Linked DNA regions of Homo sapiens. The protein of the gene in region 1 purifies or fractionates together with the protein of each later gene. This does not show direct contact. Each region holds a gene or a part of one and is shown in the gene's direction. Other genes may lie near its edges. The genes, in order: POLD3, POLD1 and POLA1.

What was found.
Region 2: the proteins of POLD3 (region 1) and POLD1 purify together in Homo sapiens (co-immunoprecipitation; 8 studies listed by BioGRID and IntAct, with this or other methods). This does not show direct contact.
Region 3: the proteins of POLD3 (region 1) and POLA1 fractionate together in Homo sapiens (co-fractionation; 2 studies listed by BioGRID). This does not show direct contact.

What each region holds. Positions count from the first base shown.
Region 1 is NC_000011.10:74,588,269-74,595,668, forward strand, and holds the start of POLD3 (DNA polymerase delta subunit 3), read left to right. Parts: upstream 1-4,313; 5' UTR 4,314-4,390; coding exon 4,391-4,450; exon of another isoform or gene 4,451-4,936; coding exon of another isoform or gene 4,937-4,942; intron 4,943-5,792; coding exon 5,793-5,848; intron 5,849-7,400. UniProt on the Homo sapiens protein: Accessory component of both the DNA polymerase delta complex and the DNA polymerase zeta complex.
Region 2 is NC_000019.10:50,408,278-50,415,384, forward strand, and holds part of POLD1 (DNA polymerase delta catalytic subunit), read left to right. Parts: intron 1-429; coding exon of another isoform or gene 430-507; coding exon 508-624; intron 625-844; coding exon 845-958; intron 959-1,241; coding exon 1,242-1,389; intron 1,390-1,663; exon of another isoform or gene 1,664-1,747; intron 1,748-5,148; coding exon 5,149-5,244; intron 5,245-5,464; coding exon 5,465-5,602; intron 5,603-6,537; coding exon 6,538-6,713; intron 6,714-7,107. UniProt on the Homo sapiens protein: As the catalytic component of the trimeric (Pol-delta3 complex) and tetrameric DNA polymerase delta complexes (Pol-delta4 complex), plays a crucial role in high fidelity genome replication, including in lagging strand synthesis, and repair.
Region 3 is NC_000023.11:24,738,835-24,745,941, forward strand, and holds part of POLA1 (DNA polymerase alpha catalytic subunit), read left to right. Parts: intron 1-540; coding exon 541-716; intron 717-2,540; coding exon 2,541-2,670; intron 2,671-3,167; coding exon 3,168-3,287; intron 3,288-4,395; coding exon 4,396-4,495; intron 4,496-5,606; exon of another isoform or gene 5,607-5,736; intron 5,737-5,765; exon of another isoform or gene 5,766-6,059; intron 6,060-6,583; coding exon 6,584-6,708; intron 6,709-7,107. UniProt on the Homo sapiens protein: Catalytic subunit of the DNA polymerase alpha complex (also known as the alpha DNA polymerase-primase complex) which plays an essential role in the initiation of DNA synthesis.

The sequences.
Region 1 (7,400 bases):
GTATATACCTCAAATCATTTTCACAAACTCAACACACCATGCAACCAGCACCAAGATCAAGAATATTACCTTCATCTCAAAAGCCTCCTCATACTCCCTTCCAGTTTCTACCCTCCCAAGGGTAACCACTAATCCAGCTAAGTCATTCAACCCTAATATTGGCAGGTCCATTGGGTTGGGCTGGGCACTCTAAACAGTGTGGTTGATATAGGAGTTAAGAAGAAATCACTTAGGCAGATAGTAAGGGTATAGAAGTCCATGGTAAGGCTTTTCTTTTTCATGAAAAGCAGCCCCAAATCATTTTCTAACAAAGACCAGCCTGTAAAGTTGAGCTTCAGACATAGACAAGCAAGCTGGGAGCTTGCACGGGTGAATGTGGGCAGGAACTAGGGACTAGACATGTTCAAGATGGCGACTCCATCATCCCTTCTCTGCCAGCCACATGTACAGTAAGGAGCAGACAAGATGGTGCCAGCCAAGGAGAGTTCATTTGCATCATAAGATCAGGGTGGGGATACCAGCCTTCACCCCTGGGCTATGTAAATGTCACACCTGATCGAAACAATCTGTGAGCCCTACATAAATCAGACACCGCCTCCTCAAGCTGGACTATAAAGTCCAGCGCATCTGCCACCATGATCACTAGGAGACCCCTCTCTCTATATATAAAGAGAACTGTTTCTCTTTCTCTTCTGCCTATTAAACCTCCGCTCCTAAACTCTTCGTGTGTGTTAGTGTCCTAAATTTTCCTGGTGCCAGACTACCAACCCCAGGGTATATAGCCCAGACAATGTAGCCACCTCATTGTCATCTGCTCCATTTGGCATAGGGATAAGTATCAAGACTCTTCCCTAGCTAATTATCTTGACTTACTTCCCACTCCTGTGGAGCACTGACAAGAGGCCTGAGTTCTGATCCCACAGCAACCACCTAATAATCCTGGAAAAATCTATTTCTCTCTGAGCCGCAACAATCCAGTCTCTAAAATATGGACAATGGCCAGGCACAGTGGGTCACACCTGTAATCCCAGCAGTTTGGGAGGCCGAAGTGGGCGGATCACTTGAGGTCAGAAATTTAAGACCAGCCTGACCAACAAGGCGAAACCCCCTCTCTACTAAAAATACAGTTGGGTGTGGTGGTGCATACCTGTGATCCCAGCTACTCAGGAGGTGGAGGCATGAGAATCGCATGAACCTGGGAGGCAGAGGTTGCAGTGAGTGGAGATCATGCCACTGCACTCCACCCTGGGCGACAGATCAAGACTCCATCTCAAAAAATAAAACAAAATAAATAAACAGGCTGGGCACGGTGGCTCACACCTATAATCCCAGCACTTTGGGAGGCTGAGGTGGGCGGATTGCCTGAGGTCGGGAGTTCGAGGCCAGCCTGACCAACATGGAGAAACCCTGTCTCTACTAAAAATACAAAATTAGCTGGGCATGGTGGTGCATGCCTGTAATCCCAGCTACTCGAGAAGCTGAGGCAGGAGAATCGCTTGAACCCGGGAGGCAGAGGTTGCAGTGAGCAGAGATTGCGCCATTGCACTCCAGCCTGGGCAACAGGAGCAAAACTCCGTCTCAAAATAAATAAATAAATAATAAAATAAAATATGGACAATATAATACATTTGCAGCATTGCTATGAGGACTAAATGAAATATTGCTCTTAAAGTACCTGGTATAGTAGGTCTGGTATATAATAACGTAATAGTCAACGATCATAGATTTTATTGTGTGCAGGTACTGCATGAGAGTTTTATGTATATTATCTCATTTGTAACTGGCCAAATAGAATTATTTGATTTTCTCATCTGCTTCCAGTCTTTCACGTCTCAGTCAAGGGCATCACCATTTACCTAAAGATTTATGTTCCATATCTAGGTATTTTCCTTGATTCCTGTTTTTTCCACACTCCACTCGTGTAATTCATCAGCAGGTTTTGCCGACTCTAAAACAAAACTCAAGTCACTCAGTTCTCTCAATTTCCACTACCACTACTCTATTTTAAAAAATGTATTGGTTTGGCGTTGTGGCTTACGCCTGTAATCCCAGCACTTTGGGAGGCCAAGGCAGGTGGATCACCTGAGGTCAGGAGTTCGAGACCAGCCTGGCCAACATGGCGAAACCCCCTCTCTACTAGAACTACAACAAAATTAGCCGGGTGTGGTGGCGCATGCCAGTAATCCCAGCAACTTGGGAGGCAGAGGCAGGAGAATCACTTGAACCCGGGAGGCAGAGGTTACAGTGAGCCGAGATCGCGCCATTGCACTCCAACCTGGGGAACAAGAGCAAAACTCTGTCTCAAAAAAAAAAAAAATTATTATTTTTTGAGACAGGGTCTCACTCTGTCACCCAGGCTGTATGCAGTGGCATGATCAAGTGCTCACTGCAACCTCTACCTCCTGGGCTCAATCCATCCTCCCACTTCAGAACTGGGACCACAGACCACAGACCACAGGCTCGTGCCACCATGGCTTTTTTTTTTTTTTTTTTTAGTAGGGACGGAGTTTCAGTATGTTGCTCAGGCTGGTCTCGAACTCCTGGGGCTCAAGTGATCCACTTGCCTTGGCCTCCCAAAGTGCTGGGATTATAGGTGTGAGCTACTGTGCCTGGCACTGCTACCCTATTTTATTTTATTTATTTATTTTGAGGGGGGTCTCACTCTGTTTCCCAGGCTGGAGTGCAGTGGCACCATCTCAGCTCACCGCAACCTCGGTCTCCCAGGTTCAAGTGATTCTGCTGCCTCAGCCTCCCGAGTAGCTGGGATTACAGGCGTGTACCACCACACCTGGTTAATTTTTGTATTTTTAGTAGAGACGGGGTTTCGCCATGTTTGCCAGGCTGGTCTCGAACTCCTGACCTCAGGTGATCTGCCTGCCTCGGCCTCCCAAAGTGTGGGATTACAGGTGTGAGCCACTGCGCCGAGCCATTTTATTTTATTTTTAGACGGAGTCTCTCTCTGTTTCCCAAGCTGAAGTGCAGTGGCATGATCTCGGCTCACTGCAACCTCCACCTCCTGGATTCAAGACATTCTCATGCCTCAGCCCTGGGAGTAACTGGGACTATAGGCACGTGCCACCACGCCCGGCTAATTTTTATATTTTTAGTAGAGACAGGGTTTCACCATGTGGGCCTGGCAGGCCTCGAACTCCTGACCTCAGGTGATTCATCCCCCTAGGCCTCCCAAAGTGCTGGGATTACAGGCGTTAGCCACCGCGCCCGGTCTGCTACCCTATTTTAAACCACCACTATCTTTCACTTAAAAATCTCAGAATGTAAGTTACATGTGAACAGGCTCGGTTTATTATTGCTCATAGCTGCAGCCCCAGCACCTCAACACTCAGAATAGTATCTGGCCTTTCTCAGGATTTTGCTATGCTTTGAATGAATGCATGTCGCGACAAGCCTTTGAAGTAGGTACTGTTATTATTCCCATTTTATAGATAAGGAAATAGGCTCCTAGTGGCTAAAGAATTACCTAAGTTTACACAACAAACAGCAAAACCAGGATTCAAACCCAGTAAGTCTGACTCTAGAGCCCACTCTCTTACGCACTACACCTGCGATACTGAACTGCACCGGCTTATGCTGAAGTCAATTATTAAAGATTTTTGCGGGGGTGATACTAGGAGAAATTTGAGTTGAAATTCCCCAACCTGATAACTTTTCTCCAAGTTTTCCTGAGAACACAGCTCAAGCGCCTCTTCACAGTCTCCTAGGCACAACGATTTGGTTTCTCCCAAGTCTCTCTCATCCGCCTCTTCTCCTAACAATCCAGAGATAATGAACTCTTTTCCAGCAAATTCTCCTGCTTCTATCCGAAACACTCAGCCTCTCCTCAACCCCTCTGGAAAAACCTTCCCTAATTTCTCAACTCTGAGGGATTATAACAGGCAGTACTTTTCCCCAGTTGGCAGCACTACTAAAATTACTTGTTTTCAATAGTCTCCCCTTTATCCTGGCTTTCCCGGGTTTCATCACGCGCAGCCAACCTCGGTAGGGAAATATTATACCCAATGACATCTGTTGAGAGACCATATTCACTAATGTTTATTACAGTATAATAATAATTGTTCTATTTTATCGTTAGTTATTTTTGTTAATCTCTTACTGTGCCTAATTTATAAATTAAACTTTATCATAGGTACGTAGGTATAGGAAAAAACCAGCCAGGAGGCCCCGCACTTCGGTGTTTTCTACTAGCTCTGCCTACCTCCGTCTGCGCCGTCTCCCTGACTAGTTTGACCCTTCGAGGGCCGCCGTAGTGCGTCGCCTCCGTTGCCGGGGAAACGACCCGGGACCTGGGAGGGAGCAAAGACGTTTCCCGCCGGCGGGAGCTGTGGCTGTGATTGAGAGAGGGGTTAGAGGCGGGTCCCAGCGCTGCCGCACCATGGCGGACCAGCTTTATCTGGAAAATATAGACGAGTTCGTCACGGACCAAAACAAGATCGTGAGCAGCTACTACTGGGGAACGCGGGCGTGCGACCGGGGTCCTGGGCCCGGCTAGGGCGGCGGGAGCCTTGACCCTCTGTCTGCTTGTGGCTTCGTGGGGACCAGGGGAGACAGGTCCCCACGAGGGGACCTGGGCGAGCTCTGTGCCCCAGAGCGAGCGAGGACTCGTCGGGAAGGTCCTCCAGCACACACGGAAGTCCGCGTCCCTTGGGTGGGCGTGCTGGGAACAGAGCCTGGGGCTGGAGCCGCGGAGACCGGGCGCGGAGGGAGGGCCGTTGGCTGAGAGTTCTAAGGCGTCCCTACACCTTTCTTTTAAGGTGGTTGGCGTTTAAAGTTTTAAGTTTACAGTTGAGGAAATCGTGTCTTAACTGTGTTAAGTTACAAGTTGCGTAACCTCCAGATACTGTTTCCTCTTCCTGGAAATTTAAGCATTGATAGAGGTTTGATCCGCTTCACACGGGTGAGGAAAAGATCGAGCGAATTGATGGATGTGAGTGCACTTTGCAAACCGTGATGATTGAGTGCCTGCTGTGTGCCAAGGCACTTTAATCTTTACAGTGACCTCCCCGCACCCCATCCCAGGTCGGTGGTGGTATCCCGAGATGAGGAAATTGAAGCTGAGGGGCCAAATAACTTGTTTATTTGCGTTTGGTAAGGGATAGGCAGTTTTTCAACCTAGGTCTGTCCTCTTACTAATGCTTTCTTCTACATCACACTGCCTTTGCCTAACCTGTGCAAGTCTTCTAACTATTGGAAGCTTGACATTTGGAATTGGAAGAGACTTTGAGAGAAGAGAGTGCAGGCATCCTGGGTCTAGGAGGGATGAAGGCTTGATGCTGGTAGTTCCCAATCTAATCTCTTATAAAAATATTTACCCACTTTTTTCGTTTCCTGACCCCTGCACCACCTGTGCCCTTTAATGTTTGCATGGGTGCAACTTTCTTTAGAAGTTTCTGAGACATCACACTTCAAAGTCATCTAGCTTCTGAATGAGTTTTAGGATGGCTTTGGCTGGTGGCCCCCAAAAAAAACATCATGAGGAAAGGGCCTGAGTAAAACAAGGAATGTGAGGAAAATGAGAGTTTTTTCTGTTAGGTATGTTCAGCTTGTCTTTTTAGATTACTTTTCATTAGTTCATGAAACAAACTTCTTAGCATTTTTAAGATAAATAGGTCCTGCCTACCCAGATAGATAGTTCTTGGGAAAACTGCAGTGGCATTTATTGTAATTTGTAAGGCATAATCATCTAAGAATAGGAATCTTTAGCAACAGACCTTCGGGACTGATGTGCACTCTGGAGTCATCTAATAAAACATTTGAAAAATTTTTTCTTGTTACAGGTGACATACAAATGGCTGAGCTATACACTAGGGGTTCATGTTAACCAGGCCAAACAGTAAGTCCAATTTACTACCAATTTTAATCATATTGGAATTTTTTTTTGTTTTGTTATGCTTTGCTTTTAACTCTACAGATAGCCTACATAGATTAGAGCTAATTTGGTTTGCTGGCAATCATTGGTATTTCTTGGCTTGTAGCTGCGTAATTCCAATCTCTGCCTTCATTGTCATGGCATTCTCCCTGTATATCTGTATCTTTGCACGTCCATCTTATATGAACACCAGTCATACTGAATTACGAATCCACCCTACTCCAATATGACCTTGTCTTAACTAATTACATGTGCTATAATTCTATTTCTAAATAAGGTCACATTTTAAGGTATTGGGGGTTAGGGCTTTAACATTACCTTTTTGGAGACATGATTCAGTCTGTAATATGGATACAACAAGTTTTGTTTATTCATCATTAATGGACATTTGGGTTATTTCCATATTTTGACTGCTATGAATGATGCTGTTATGAACATTCATGTATAAAACATTCATCTATAAGTGTTTATATGAACATATATTTTCAGTTATCTTGGGTATTTGTGTTAGTCCATTCTCATGCTGCTATGAAGACACACCTGAGATTGAATTTATAAAGACGAGGTTTAATTGACTCACAGTTCCGCATGGCTGGGGAGGCCTCAGGAGACTTGGCGGAAGGCATCTCTTCACAGGGTGGCAGGAGAGAGAATGAGTGTCGAGCGAAGGGGGAAGCCCCTTGTAAAACCGTCAGATTTCGTGAGAACTCACTATCATGAGAAGAGCATGGGGGAACTGCCCCCATAATTCAGTTATCTCCACCTGGTCCGTCTTTGACATGTGGGGATTATTACAATTCAAGTTGAGATTTGGGTGGGGACACAGCCAAACTAGGATTGGAATTGCTGGGTCATGAGATAATTCTGTATTTAACATTTTGAGGAACTGACAAACTATTTTTCAAAATGGCTGCGCTTCTTACAGTCCTAACAGTATATGAGTATTTCAGTTTCTCCACATTCTGGTTAACACTAACACTGTTTTTTCCCTCAGACTTCTCATGGATGAACTCTTTTTTTTTTTTTTTTTTTTTTTTGAGATGGGGTTTCACTATGTTGCCCAGGCTGGATTTGAACTCAAGGATCCTCCCGCCTCAGCCTACCAACTAGCTCTACAGGTGTACATCACCACACCTGGCAAAAACTTTTTATTATGTCTTATTTTAACCATCCTAGTGGATGTGAAGTGGTATCTCATAAATTATGTTGATTGGCATTTTCCTAATGACTAATGTTGCTGAATATCTTTTCATATGCTGCTTGGCCATATCTTTGGAGAAATAGATATTCAAAATTATGCCCATTTTTGTCATTGGGTATTTTTGGTTGTTGTTGAGTTTTAAGAGTTCTTTATATATTCTGAATACAAGACCCTGATTGAAAAATTATTTGCAAAAATTTTCTCCCATTCTGTGGATTGTCTTTGTACTTTCTTGATGGTGTGCTTTGAAGCACAGACATTTTTTGTTGTTGTTGTTGTTTGAGACAGGATGTCACTCTGTTGCCCAAGCTGGAG
Region 2 (7,107 bases), on another chromosome or scaffold:
TGAGCTGAGATTGCGCCACTGCACTCCAGCCTGGGTGACAAAGCGAGACTCCGTCTCAAAAAAAATAAAATAAAATAAAATAGTAGATTAATTATATATATTATTTTTCTTTTTCTTTTTCTTTTTTTGACACAGGGTCTCACTCTGTCACCCAGGGTGGAGTGCGGTGGCATGATCTTGGCTTACTCCACCTCCTAGGCTCAAGCAATCCTCCTGCCTCAGGCCCCTGAGTAGCTGGGACCACAGGCGTGCACCACCACACCTGGCTAATTTTTAAAATTTTTTTGTAGAGATAGGGTTTTGCCATGTTGCCCAGGCTGATCTGAAACTCCTGAGTTCAAGCGATCCTCCTGCCTCAGCCTCCCAATGTGCTGGGATTGCAGGAGCGAGCACTGCTCCCAGCCAATGAATGATTTTTTTTTTTTAAAGGGTGAGGCCACAAGACAGGGCGGGGGCGGCATGGGAACTCCTAGCCCTGACTCCCGGCCGCGGCTGCTCCCCTCCCAGGTACTACGACGTCCCCATCGCCACCCTGGACTTCTCCTCGCTGTACCCGTCCATCATGATGGCCCACAACCTGTGTTACACCACGCTCCTTCGGCCCGGGACTGCACAGAAACTGGGGTATAGTGCCCAATTCAGCATGTGTCCCCCGAGGCCCATCTGGGCCTTCCCTTGGGGGGCTCAGTCTGGTGGGGGGCATAGGCACAGGCCCAGAGATAGTAGGGAGTGGAGGGGTGCTTGAGGGGCCTGCGTGTGCTCATGGCCAAGGCCAGGACCGTAGGGCAGAGGTGGGCTGGAGCAGGAGGGTGGCCGGCAGTCACCCCAACATCTTCCAACCCAGCCTGACTGAGGATCAGTTCATCAGGACCCCCACCGGGGACGAGTTTGTGAAGACCTCAGTGCGGAAGGGGCTGCTGCCCCAGATCCTGGAGAACCTGCTCAGTGCCCGGAAGAGGTGAGCCCTGGAGATCGCCTGCTTGGAGCTCAGACCTGTTGGGGCCTCTGGGCAATCCCTGTCCCTCACTGGGACACCCCAGGGCTGCCCAGCCACCCTGCCCTCAGCTGTGCGTGAATTAGCACAAGGCATCCCCTCCTGGCAGCTTCCTTTTGCCCCCTTGGCCAGAAGCTTCTGTGCAGTGCACAGTACGCCCAACCGTACATGGCACTCACTTCCAGAAAGGAGCCCTGACCAATGCCCAGGTGCCGCCTGAGTGTGCTTTCCCCGTGTTCCCTCGCAGGGCCAAGGCCGAGCTGGCCAAGGAGACAGACCCCCTCCGGCGCCAGGTCCTGGATGGACGGCAGCTGGCGCTGAAGGTGAGCGCCAACTCCGTATACGGCTTCACTGGCGCCCAGGTGGGCAAGTTGCCGTGCCTGGAGATCTCACAGGTGGGCACTCGGGCCCCTGGAAGGCAACTGGGGGCAGGTGGGCCCCCTGTGTAGGAGACCAGGGCTCCATGTGGGGGACCTGTATCCAGAGGACTGGGCACCCCAACTCACTGGCCTTCTAGAGAGAGGATGCCAATGTGGCTTGAGCAATTGGTCCATTCCTTCACTCAGCAAATGCCTACTGAGCACACACTGTGGTCAGGGCTCACTCTGTGCCCTGGGGATACAGAGGGGAACAAAATGGATGAGAGCTCCTGTCCCTGTCATCTTGCAGCCCAGTGGGGACACTGACAGGTCTGTGTAAACGTGTTTAGGACACAAGTGGCGCTACGAGCTTTGCAGCCGGATAAAGCAGGAGGTGCGGACTGTCGGGGAGTGATGGGGCTGGGCGGGACTCACCCCTCTCAATAGGCGACGCTCACACAGAGGCCAAGGGACGTGGGGAGGGAAGCCATTCACCGTCCCCACGGCAGCGTCCCGGTCTGCCTACCCACGGCAGCTCTGCTGCTTGAACAGAAAAACAGATTCTTTGAAACCACAGAGGGCCTGAGTTTCCGAGATTGCCAAGCTGGGGTCAGTGCCCCAGCTCCTGGCATATGAGGGCCTCGGAAGGGTCTTCCTGTCCAGCCTTCTCCCCTGGGACTTGAGTCTTGGCCCATTCCAGGCCAGTAGTTGTGCTGCTCTGCTTGGTTACCTCTAGCCACGGGGAGCTCCCTCTCTGGCTGGGCACTGCGCCACTTTTCACAGGGCTCTGGGTGGAAGGCTTGGATGAATTCTCAGTGGGTGGGGCCTTTGCACACACCCACCCACCCGCAGTTCTGGGGGTCCCAAAGACCACTTAGGTTCAGTGATTCACTAGAAGTACTCAGAGAGCAGAAAAGCTGGTTCTCATGGTTATGATTTAATACAGCAAAAGGACACAGATTAAACTCAGCAAAAGAAAGAGGTGCACAGGGCAGGGTATAGGAGGGACCAGGCGTGTCTTCCAGTTGTGCTCTCCCAGTAGAGTTGCCAGGCTGGCCCTCCTTCCTCCCAGTTTTGATGCGTGCCTGCACACATGCAGCATTGCCAACCAGAGGCTCTCACCCAAGCTTTGGGGTCCAGGGTTTTTCTTGGGTGTCAGTCCTATAGGCATGGAGCACCCTGTGACTGGCCTTAGTGACTCCATCATCCCCAGGCCCCTCAGCAACCCCCAGAGGTCAAACTGATACTGCATGGCCCAGGGCCCTACCATAAACCATGTTAGTGTCAACTACCTGGTGTGGTTCAAAGTCCCAGGTACACAAACACCTTTTTTTTTTTTTTTTTTGAGACAGAGTCTCACTCTCTCACCCAGGCTGGAGCGCAGTGGCACAATCGTGGCTCACTGCAGCCTCAACCTCCGGGACTCAGGTGAGCCTCCCACGTTAGCCTCCCAAGTGGCTGGGACTGCGGGCACGTGCCACCTATTTTTGTTATTTTTTGTAGAGATAGGGTCTCGCCATGTTGCCCAGGCTGGAACAGAGACACTGTTATCAGGCGGGATATTCTAGGGGCTTAGACTACCAGGAGCCAGGCAAGAGCCAGACCTTTCTTTGCACAAAGTGAATCGCTCACTGCATGCTCCCAACTCCCCTCTGCCTTTCACAGTCCCCGGCTGCCTCCCCAGCCTCCTTGGTGGAAAGGGGTGGCTGTGTGGACATCAGGCTCTAGCCCTGAAGCAGAGGCCAGGCCAAGAGAGCACAGCTTGGCCCTCCCCTGGGGCTGCCTCTTACCAATCCTGTGTCTCTGTCTTTTCTCTCTCAGCCGCTTCCCTCTGTCACTGTTCTGTTTCTGTCTCTTGACCTCTTTCCTTATTTCTGTCTCTCAAGCTTATGGGAGCAAGAGGTGGAATAATAAAAATGCAATGAATTGGCTGGGCGCGGTGGCTCACGCCTGTAACCCCAGCACTTTAGGAGGCCGAGGCGGGCGGATCACGAGGTCAGGAGTTCAAGACCAGCCTGGCCAACATGGTGAAACCCTGTCTCTATTAAAAATACAAAACATTAGCCAGGAGTGGTGGCAGGTGCCTCTAATCCCAGCTACTCGGGAGGCTGAGGCAGGAGAATCGCTTGAACCCAGGAGGCAGAGGTTGCAGTGAGCCGAGATTGCGCCAGTGCGCTCCAGCCTGGGCAACAGAGCAAAACTCCGTCTCAAAAAAAAAAAAAAGTAATGAATTACAGTGTTCACGCCTGTAATCCCAACACTTTGTGACACTGAGGAGGGAGGATCACTTGAGGCCAGGGGTTTAAGACCAGCCTGGGCAACATAGTGAAACCCCATCTCTACAAAAAATACAACCAAACAAAACTAGCCAGGCATTGTGGTAGCTCATGCCTGTAGTTGCAGCTACTCAGGAGGCTGAGACGGGAAGATGGCTTGAACCCAGCAGTTTGAGTTACAGTAAGCTGTGATGGCATCACTGCACTCCATTCTGGGTGACAGAGTTGAGACCCTGTCTCTTTTAGTTTTTGTTTGTTTGTTTTGAGATGGAGTCTTGCTCTGTCACCCAGGCTGGAGTGCAATGCCACAATCTTGGCTCACTGCGACCTCTCCCTCCCGGGTTCAAGTGATTCTCCTGCCTCAGCCTCCTGAGTAGCTGGGATTACAGGCACCCGCCACCATGCCTGGCTAATTTTTGCATTTTTAGTAGAGACGGGGTTTCACCATGTTGGCCAGGCTGGTCTTGAACTCCTGACCTCAGGTGATCCACCTGCCTCGGCCTCCCAAAGTGCTGGGATTACTGGTGTGAGTCACCACGCTTGGCCTCCTGTCTCTTAAAAAAAAAAAAAAATTGAATCATTTCAGGAAAAGATTACAAAGGAAAGAAAAAGGAACATAGGACAGGTGGAACAAGTAAAAGCTAGACAGTAAAGTGGTAGACGTAAGCCCAGCTATATCAGTAATTACACTAAATGTAAATGGACAAAATGCTCTAGTTAGACAGATTTCCTGACTGGATCCACACAAACAAAAACAGAAGAATCACACCCATCTCTCCTTGGTGTCCCCACCCCCAGCCTCAGGTTTGGTGGTGGTGGTGGTGGTGGTGGTGTTGTTGTTTAAGTATTTTTTAGTTTTGTGTGTGTGTGTGTGTGTATTTTTAGTAGAGATGGTGTTTCACCATGTTGTCCAGGCTGATCTCGAACTCCTGACCTCAAGTGATCCAGCCACTTCAGCCTCCCAAAGTGCTGGGTGTACAGGCATAAGCCACCACGCCAGCTAGTTTTCTTAACTCTAAAATAAGACAGTGGGTTTCTCAATGGTTTCTTAGTCAGGGTGGTGCCACCCCCTGCTCTGGGGGGCATTTGTCAATGTGTAGGTAGGGCCAGTTCTGGTGGTACAGGGATGGGGGTGGCACTGCTGGCTTCCAGGGATGGGGCTGGCTATGTCGGTGGTCCTGTACCATAGAGAGCTGCCCAGAATGTCAGTGTGAGGGAAACACTGGGCCAGTGGCCTCTTCAGGCCGCAGTCTTTCCAGCATGCATTTGATGTAGTCACTTCCTTGTGCATGTCCAGAACTCTGAGCCAGGGAACCCACTTCTTTCCACCTGACCATTGAGGAGCCGCCTTATAGTCCCATTTTGCAGATTTGGGAACTGAGGCCCAGGAGGGGCAGAGTGGCTTGTACATAAGCCTATGCCACTGGGAAATGGCAGAGGCGGGACCCCTCCCCCGCCGGCCCACGTTCACTGCACATGGCCCCCAGGGCTTCACTCCGCATGATTCTCTCCCCGACAGAGCGTCACGGGGTTCGGACGTCAGATGATCGAGAAAACCAAGCAGCTGGTGGAGTCTAAGTACACAGTGGAGAATGGCTACAGCACCAGTGCCAAGGTCGGGGGCTGCCCACCGCTGCCCTGAGATGGGCCCAGGGCAGGTGGGGGGATGGAAGCCGGGCCGGACCCCCATGTCCCCGTGCCTCCTGGTCACACCCTGCCCACTCTCCTGTTGCATCCTTGGGTCCCGTTGGCATTAGCCACCTGCCACCCCCCGACACCAGTAGTTGACAGAAGGGACCCTGCTTCTCACATACACACATCCCCACCGCCCGCAGGTGGTGTATGGTGACACTGACTCCGTCATGTGCCGATTCGGCGTGTCCTCGGTGGCTGAGGCGATGGCCCTGGGGCGGGAGGCCGCGGACTGGGTGTCAGGTCACTTCCCGTCGCCCATCCGGCTGGAGTTTGAGAAGGTGCGTGGCTGGGTCAGGGGCTCTGCATTTAGGTGCCCTCATCAGGGTACTCAGGGTGTCCCGTTCTTTGGGTTCACAAAAGCCACAGTGTGAAGGGATGTTGCTGCTTAGATTCTCCTGAGGCTGGGGCCTTGGTTTGGGAAGCCTCCAAGGCCTTGGGCTTTGTTACCCTGGATGGCATCTGTTCTTTGAAAACCCTGTCGCTGTCCCTGGTTTTGAGGTGTCACAGTGTCCCTGGTTTTGAGGTTTCCCAGTACCTGTCAGATGTGGAGCTGCCCTCCACGCAGGGACCCTGATGGGGGTGCACCTTAGATCTGTGCACCATTGCCCCTGGCCCTCTGAGTGCGGCACACTTGGTCCCAGGAAACCTTGCACCATATTTTCTTTTGAAGAGTCTGGGTCTCGCTCTGTCGCCCAGGCTGGAGTGCAGTGGCGAGTTCACAGCTCACTGCAGCCTCCAACTCCTGGGCTCCGGCGATCCTCCCGCCTTGGCCTCCTGAGCCGCCACGCCCAGTTCTCACACTGTACTGTTTCCCCGTGGCTTAACGCTCTCTCGTGCCAGGCCTTGGACTTGGAGCCTCGCAGAGTGGGGAGGTCTCTGCCTCAGGGCTCACCCAGCCGTAGTTTCTCCTCTCTTTCATGGGATGCTTCATCGACTCGCCTGTCTGGATCTCATGTTTTAGGGACTATCTGGATTTATCCCAGTCTCTGTTTCAGATTGGGGTCTCTGGTGTGGGGGCTCTGGCATTGCCGAGGGGCCTCAGGAGCCACTTCCAGCCATACAGTGTCTCGGTCCATCCCACCAGGCTCAGGGCACGGCTCCCATGTCCTCAAACTGCGTCTGGGACCCTGTCTACCTTCAGTTTCTGGGGGGCGTCTCCAGATTGGGGCTTGGCCTCCTCAGGCTCAGGGTCTTGGCCATGGCTCCCTCCCAGGTCTACTTCCCATACCTGCTTATCAGCAAGAAGCGCTACGCGGGCCTGCTCTTCTCCTCCCGGCCCGACGCCCACGACCGCATGGACTGCAAGGGCCTGGAGGCCGTGCGCAGGGACAACTGCCCCCTCGTGGCCAACCTGGTCACTGCCTCACTGCGCCGCCTGCTCATCGACCGGTGTGTGGGGCCTCCTCCCTCAGACTCAGGGGGCTGGGCCCCAAACCCCTCCTCCCTCAGACCCAGGAGTCTAGGCCCCAGCCCCTCCTCCCTCAGACCCACGGGTCCAGGCCCCCAGCCCCCTCCTCCTCAGATCCCGGGGTCAGGGCCCCCAGCCCCTTCCTCTCTTAGATACAAGAGTCCAGACCCCCAGCCCCTCCTCCTCTGGGAACACAGGTGTCAGGCCCAGCTCTTCCTCGGTGGTGAAGCAGTGGAAAGAGTCGGCTTGGGCAGCTGTGGGTTCAGGCCCTGCCTCTGCCACTCTGCAGCCTATGGTAGGAAGGGCCCCTCTCTGCCCTGAGCCTCAGCCCTAAGAGCTCATCCTGGTCTCCAGCCCTGAGACCCGTGGAGGCAC
Region 3 (7,107 bases), on another chromosome or scaffold:
TTTCGTAATGTTCTCTAGAGGATTCTGCCACTACAGATCAAAGTTGGGGCCACTGCTCTTGCTTCTTTTCTTATTCATATCTTTAAGGTGGTAGAGTTGTTATTAGCACTTCATCTGAACACTTGCTTAGCTTTTTACCCCCTTCAAGATTTTCTTTATGTGGCATCTTCTCAGTGAGGTATACCCCATTACCCTATTTAAGATGGCAGTCCCCCCGTATTCCTTGTACCCCTCACCCTGCTGTTTTCCCATTTTCCATCCACTTGTTACCTCCTAAAACTATATAATTTCTTGTTTATGATGTCTGTTTTTTATTATACATTTCAAATGAGGCCAGGAATCCTTTCTGTTTTGATCACTGCTGTATCCTGAGTGCCTAGAATAATGTCAGATACATAGTAAATGTTCAAAAATATTTGATTGATGTATGGAAGAATGAGAGTTTTATCATAATTTTGGGCCAGCTTCAAAATAGGTTAGAAAGAAATGTTCTCAGTGTCTGCTCTTTCATGAAGTTTGCTTTTTGTTCCCATCTTGTAGGGCCGGAGTGGATTTGGTGAAAGAAATGCTACCTGTGGTCGAATGATCTGTGATGTGGAAATTTCAGCAAAGGAATTGATTCGTTGTAAAAGCTACCATCTGTCTGAACTTGTTCAGCAGATTCTAAAAACTGAAAGGGTTGTAATCCCAATGGAAAATATACAAAATATGTACAGGTATGATCCTAGATTCTTCAGAATTCATCTGTCTTGAAATTAACAACAGCAGGACACTACTAGTACTATCCTTAGTCTGGAGGGACATGAGCCAGTGGTGTTGTAGAGGGGAAATTGTCTCTACTACTTTCATAATTTGAACTAGTTTACCTCTTGAATTATTGTAATTGATCAGTTTATCTCCGTCTCCCTCACCTGTGTTAACACTATCTTGATGTTTCCTAACAGTAGTTTGGATTTAGATTTCTACTCTTAATTCATTTATTCAGGAATTAGGGTAGATATTTTAGAAATATAAAAACTGAGCAATCATTAAGTTAGAGGTATTGCTTGCTTATTTCTTCCTCCTACTCCTCTGGCCATCTCTCATTCATTCCTGCTAGTTCTTCCTGAGTTCTTTCTTGGACTTCTCTTTTCTGACTTTGTTCTTTCTCTAGGTGATCTCATTGAGTCTTAGGAATTTAAATACCATGGGATGGCTATGCTTCCCACCTGTGTATCTTCAGGTTAGACCTCCCTAAATTCCACACTCAGTGTATCTGTTTTACCTATTTTACTTGATATCTAATGTGAACTCCCAGCTTGTTCAAAATTGAGCTCTGATCTTCTATCCTAGGTTCTTCCTATAGTCTTTCCTTACTAAATTAATAGGTGTATTTTTTCCATTATCACTGGAAACTTCCAGAGTCTTACTTAGCCCCACATGTCTGAGGCATCTTTAATTCCTCTCTCTGATATCCCACAGTAGATGCATCAGGGTATCCTATCAGTTCTATCTTCTAAATAGATCTAAGTCTGACCACTTCTTTTCAACTGCATTGGACCCATCCTATCCAAGCTGCTATCCTCTTTCCCCTGGATTACTGGGTTTATATGCCTATCCCCTTACTTTTGCCCTTACCCCCTTGTGGTCGATTCTCAATCCAGAATCAGAGTTATCCTGCTAAAATCAAGTCAGATGTGATACTCTGCTCAGAACCTTCCAGTGACTCTCTGTTTCATTCAGAGTAAAAACTAAAGTCCTTATTTTTACTTACAAGGTCCTTTACAATGTGTCTCTATGTCGTTAACTCTGTCCTTATCTCGTACTGCTCTTTCCATCATTCTCTCTGATCTAGCCATATTGGCCTCTTTCCTAGTCCTGGAACTGTCAGATTTGCACGCAGCTCAGGACTTTTGAATGTGCTATCCTGTCTGCCTGGAATGCTCTTTCCATAAGGCTTGCTCCCTCACCTCTTCAAGATCTTCATTCTCAGTAAAATCTTCCACTGTTTCCTAACAAAAATTTCAGTCTCTGCTTCTGATACTTAATATTCCCGTTGCTTAACTTTTAACATTATATAACATACTATATACTTAATTTCTTTGTTTTTTTTTATACTCTGTCTCCCCCGTGAGGACATAAGCTCCAGGAGGATAGGAAGTTTTGTTTGTTTTGGTCACAGCCAATGCCTGGCATATAGTAAGCATGCAATACATACTCACTGGATGGAATGAATGAAAGGATTTAGGTAGTTTTCAGGCTTGTAGTTATTATATTACTTCAGTTTTTCCTTATGGGATTTTGTGTGTGTGTGTGTGTGTGTGTGTGTGTGTGCGCGCGTGTGTGTGTGTGTGTGTTTTGGAGAAAAGCATTGGGATCAGTGGTATGAATGAATTCCTAGTTACATACTGACCTTATTTTAAATTGTTTCTGAAGCCAAGGTGCTGTTGCTCTGAATTTACTTACACCCAGAATTCCTTATAATATTTTGTGAAGTTCTGATTATAGGCATTGTTTCTTTTAATTACTTGATTCTGTTTCATTCTTACTTTTCTGTACAGTGAATCTTCTCAACTGTTATACCTGTTGGAACACACCTGGAAAGATGCCAAGTTCATTTTGCAGATCATGTGTGAGCTAAATGTTCTTCCATTAGCATTGCAGATCACTAACATCGCTGGGAACATTATGGTAAATTTAACTTAGAAAGGGGGAAAAAGCATTTCCTGTTGGATTCAGTGTTTGCTTGGGGTAGTTGTTATATGATAATGAGTCTAAATGCATGCTTATAAAATGAGTAACTTGGATTCTGAAAGCTGGATTTCTTTTGTAAAAGGAAGAACTGGTTGGGAGAAGGGGAGGAATGCCAGGTGCAGCGTGTTGAAATTTGGGTGAACATACGGATCATCTCTCTAACATCTGGATGTGTCTTTTTAGTGGAATGGTCCATTTGGGAGTAAATAAATAGCCAAGTTGTCAATATTTTAAGCTCTCTTTGTCTCCTTTAGCTATAATGCTTAAAGAAAACGTTAGGAATAATTTAGTACCTTTTTTTTTTTTAAAAAAAAAGCAGACCGTTATTAGGAATAGTTTTGAAGGAGGTGCTGTGACTAAACTTACTGACTCAAAGTTGCTTTTGTTAGTTGTGGTTTTGAGCTCAAATTTAAAAAATAAATTCCATTTAATAGTCCAGGACGCTGATGGGTGGACGATCCGAGCGTAACGAGTTCTTGTTGCTTCATGCATTTTACGAAAACAACTATATTGTGCCTGACAAGCAGATTTTCAGAAAGCCTCAGCAAAAACTGGTGGGTCCAAAACTGTGTAGTATTTTGTTTTCTCTTAACCCCCCCCCCCCTTTTAATACCTAGATAGCCTTTTTTTTCTGTGATAACATCTGCTTTCAAAATAGCTAATCCCTTGTGTACTAAAGAAACCGTGTCAAGTTTATTCCCTTGTTTTTGTGTGGTCATTTCCTTTTCCACTTTGTAAAAGGAAAATGCACTTTGTGCAGACAAAATTATTTGTGAAATGTGAAATTCTTTGAGGGAAGCATTAGACCTCTCTGATGGGTGACCATACATGGAATGTGTTCTGGCACCTCAGCCCTATCCAAAGATAAATGCCAGTTAAACTTTTTATTTTCTTAAACCTATGAGCCTTTATTTTTGTGTTGCATTTTTCTGTACTAGTATGACCAAGGTCACCCACAGTCAGGTTTCTGAAGTAGCCTCCATCACTTTGGAACTAAAACTTAGTTTAGCTACTGTTTTATTAGCACTGATATTAATTAATTCAGAAATGGGAATTGAATGTTAGAATTTGATTCAGGTTCTCATATTTGCTTGTTTTTTAATGTACATTATCAAAATTGGTATAGGGCATATTCATTTAGAGGACTTTAACTTCTGCTGAGGTATTGAATGTTGGCCAGTAATAAACTACTTAGGAATGGATTTTCAGTATATGGATGTACTTGTTTTATGGTGTCCATATTAATAATAGGGATAATGATAATACCTGCATGAAGTATTTTATGTTTTTACATCACGAATGTTAGAGTAGTGATTTTAAGAGGGCTGTTTTATAATCTCAAATTTTATATAACATGAAAAGTGGTATTTTTCAATATTCATTGATTTAAAAATATGAAATTCTGTAAATTCAAAAACACATAAAAATAGAATTTTCATATTTGTTAACTCAGGATATAGTATTTGTTTAAGAAATTACTATGCTTGGGATTCATTTGGATTCGTGAACATATTACAATAACTGTCTTTCCCAACAGATAGGACCACTAACTGAAATGTTTGTTAGAACTAAGTCCTGCAATTGGAAAAGAGAGAATCATCAAAATTTTAAATTAGTTAATTAGTTGCTGGCTGGTGAAGTTATCTTTCCATTTGATATTAGGGAGATGAAGATGAAGAAATTGATGGAGATACCAATAAATACAAGAAAGGACGTAAGAAAGCAGCTTATGCTGGAGGCTTGGTTTTGGACCCCAAAGTTGGTAAGGCTGGGCAGTGAATTGGTTTTCTCCCAGTATTAAGGAATTTCTTAATGTGGATCTAGGCTTGAGAAACTAGAAGACTGAATTATATCTTATAGATCAGCGAATAGGTCTCATGACTTTTATCTTTCGTTCACGTGAAAATCTTGGTTGCCAGTCACCTGACATAGACTTAATGTGAATTTTGTTATGCTGTGTTCCAATAAAATATTATTTATAGACATTGAAATTTAAATTTCATATAGTTTTCATATGTCATGAAATATTGTTTTTGATTTTTTTCCAGCCATTTAAAAATGTAAAAACCATACTTAAGCTCATGGGTGGTACAAAAATAAGTAGGTTGGATTTGGTCTGTAGCCGTAGTTTGTCTAATACATAGATAGCTGTCCAGTACATAGATAGCTGTTTGTCCTGACCAGTTCAGTTGACAGCAAAGTTGAAGGACGTGCAGACAATAACCACCAAATTTAACTTTAATAGGAGAATATCTTTTTCCCTATTGTCATGAATGGCAAAGATGTTTTGTGGTACACAGAGCTAGAAATAATTTTTTTTTCTTTTTTTCTTTTTTTTTTTTGGAGACAGAGTTTTACTCTGTTGCCCGGGCTGGAGTGCAGTGGTGCGATCTCTACTCACTGCAACCTTCACCTCTTGGGTTCAAGCGATTCTCCTGCCTTAGCCTCCTGAGTAGCTAGGACTACAGGTGTGTGCCAGCATACCCAGCTAATTTTTTTGTATATATAAAAAAACATTTCAACCCTTCCCAAGTGTACAGTTCAGCAGTAGTGTTAAGAATATTCACATTGCTGTGAAGGAATTAATGTGAATTTTATCTAATAAGTTAGTTCTGAGTAGGAAACATTTTTGACAAAAGTGATTTTGTTATTAGTTATAATGAAATGGAGCAGTAGTACTTGGTGTTATGTAGGTCTGGGTTTGAATTCAGTGTGATCTTGGGCTGCCTGTTTAACCTCTGTAAGCCTCAGTTTCTTCTGTAAAATAGAGTTAAGAGTAATATCTACCACACAGGGATTTAAGGATAAATTAGTATAGTGCTGGACACAGAATAAACTATCCTATATGTTTGCAATTATTATTGTCTTAATAGTGGACATTTATTTTTATTCAGTTTCTTCTCAAGGTGAAGATAACTCTTTGTAAATGTCCTACAGAAATATAGTAGCTTTCTGTTCTTCCTTTGCAAGTAAAAAGGGTGGGTCGTTCCACTACTGACATTTATATATATGTGTCTCTTGTTTGATTTTAGCTCAGTTTTTGTACAGGTAAATGTGCCGTCCATTTTATTTTTTGAAGCTGTTGTAAAAGAATAAATTACTCTACCAGGCGCGGTGGCTCACGCCTGTAATTTCAGCACTTTGGGAGGCTGAGGCAGGCAGATCACGAGGTCAGGAGATCGAGACCGTCCTGGCCAACATGGTGAAGCCCCATCTCTACTAAAATATAAAAAATTAGCCGAGCACGGTGTTGCGCGCCTGTAGTCCCAGCTATTCGGGAGGCTGAGGCAAGGGGACTCACTTGAACCCGGGAGGCAGAGGTTGCGGTGAGCTGAGATTGCGCCATGGCACTCCATCCTGGAGACAGAGTGAGACTCTGACTCAAAAAAAAAAATAAAAATAAAAATAAACCACTCACTTGGTTTTATTTGGGGTGGGGGGTGGGAGAGTAGGTAGGAGGATTCTTCAAAGAATTCTTGCTTTGAAGGAGAGTTGAACATTTTTTTTTTTTTAATGGATGTGACACGTCTCAGATAGCTGATTGGGAAGGTATTTGCTCATAATAATGGTGTGCTTTGGGGACAGCTGGGGAAAGGACTGGTTGTAGCTGGTTCTAAAGAGAGACAGGATCTTTTTCTCCCTCTTCTTTTGTGATCTGGCTTTTCACTAATCCGCATCATTTTATGAAATGGTAGTTGATTCTTTTTTTCCCTTTTTGTCTGTTTCACAGCTCTGGGTAGTGTATATGGATAGTATATAGTTTCTAATATACTTACAGTGCTTTTAATAATGATGTTTTGACAATTCTGCTTTTCTTTAGACTTTTTATGACGTGGCTTTTTAATTTCAGGTTTTTATGATAAGTTCATTTTGCTTCTGGACTTCAACAGTCTATATCCTTCCATCATTCAGGAATTTAACATTTGTTTTACAACAGTACAAAGAGTTGCTTCAGAGGCACAGAAAGTTACAGAGGTTTGTATTTAACCTGGGACTCTTGAAATTGAGTTTAAAAAAATTGCTTAAAGAAGGAAGATCTGTGTCTTTTTAAAATAGTTTTATTGTGGTATTATTCATATACCATATACTTCACCTGTTTGAAGTGTGTAGTTCAGTGGCTTTTAGTGTATTCCCAGAGTTTGCAACCATCATCACAATGAGTTTTAGGATATTTTCATTATTCCCCAAAGAAACCTTTTAGCTGTCACCTCCCTCAATCCCCATCCCTTCCACCTCTAGGCAACTACTAATCTTTTTGCTTTTATAGATTTGTGTATTCTGGACGTCTCATATAAATAGAATCATACATTATATGGCCTTTCGGTATCTGGCTTATTTCACTTATAATGTTTTCAAGGTTCATCCATTTTGTAG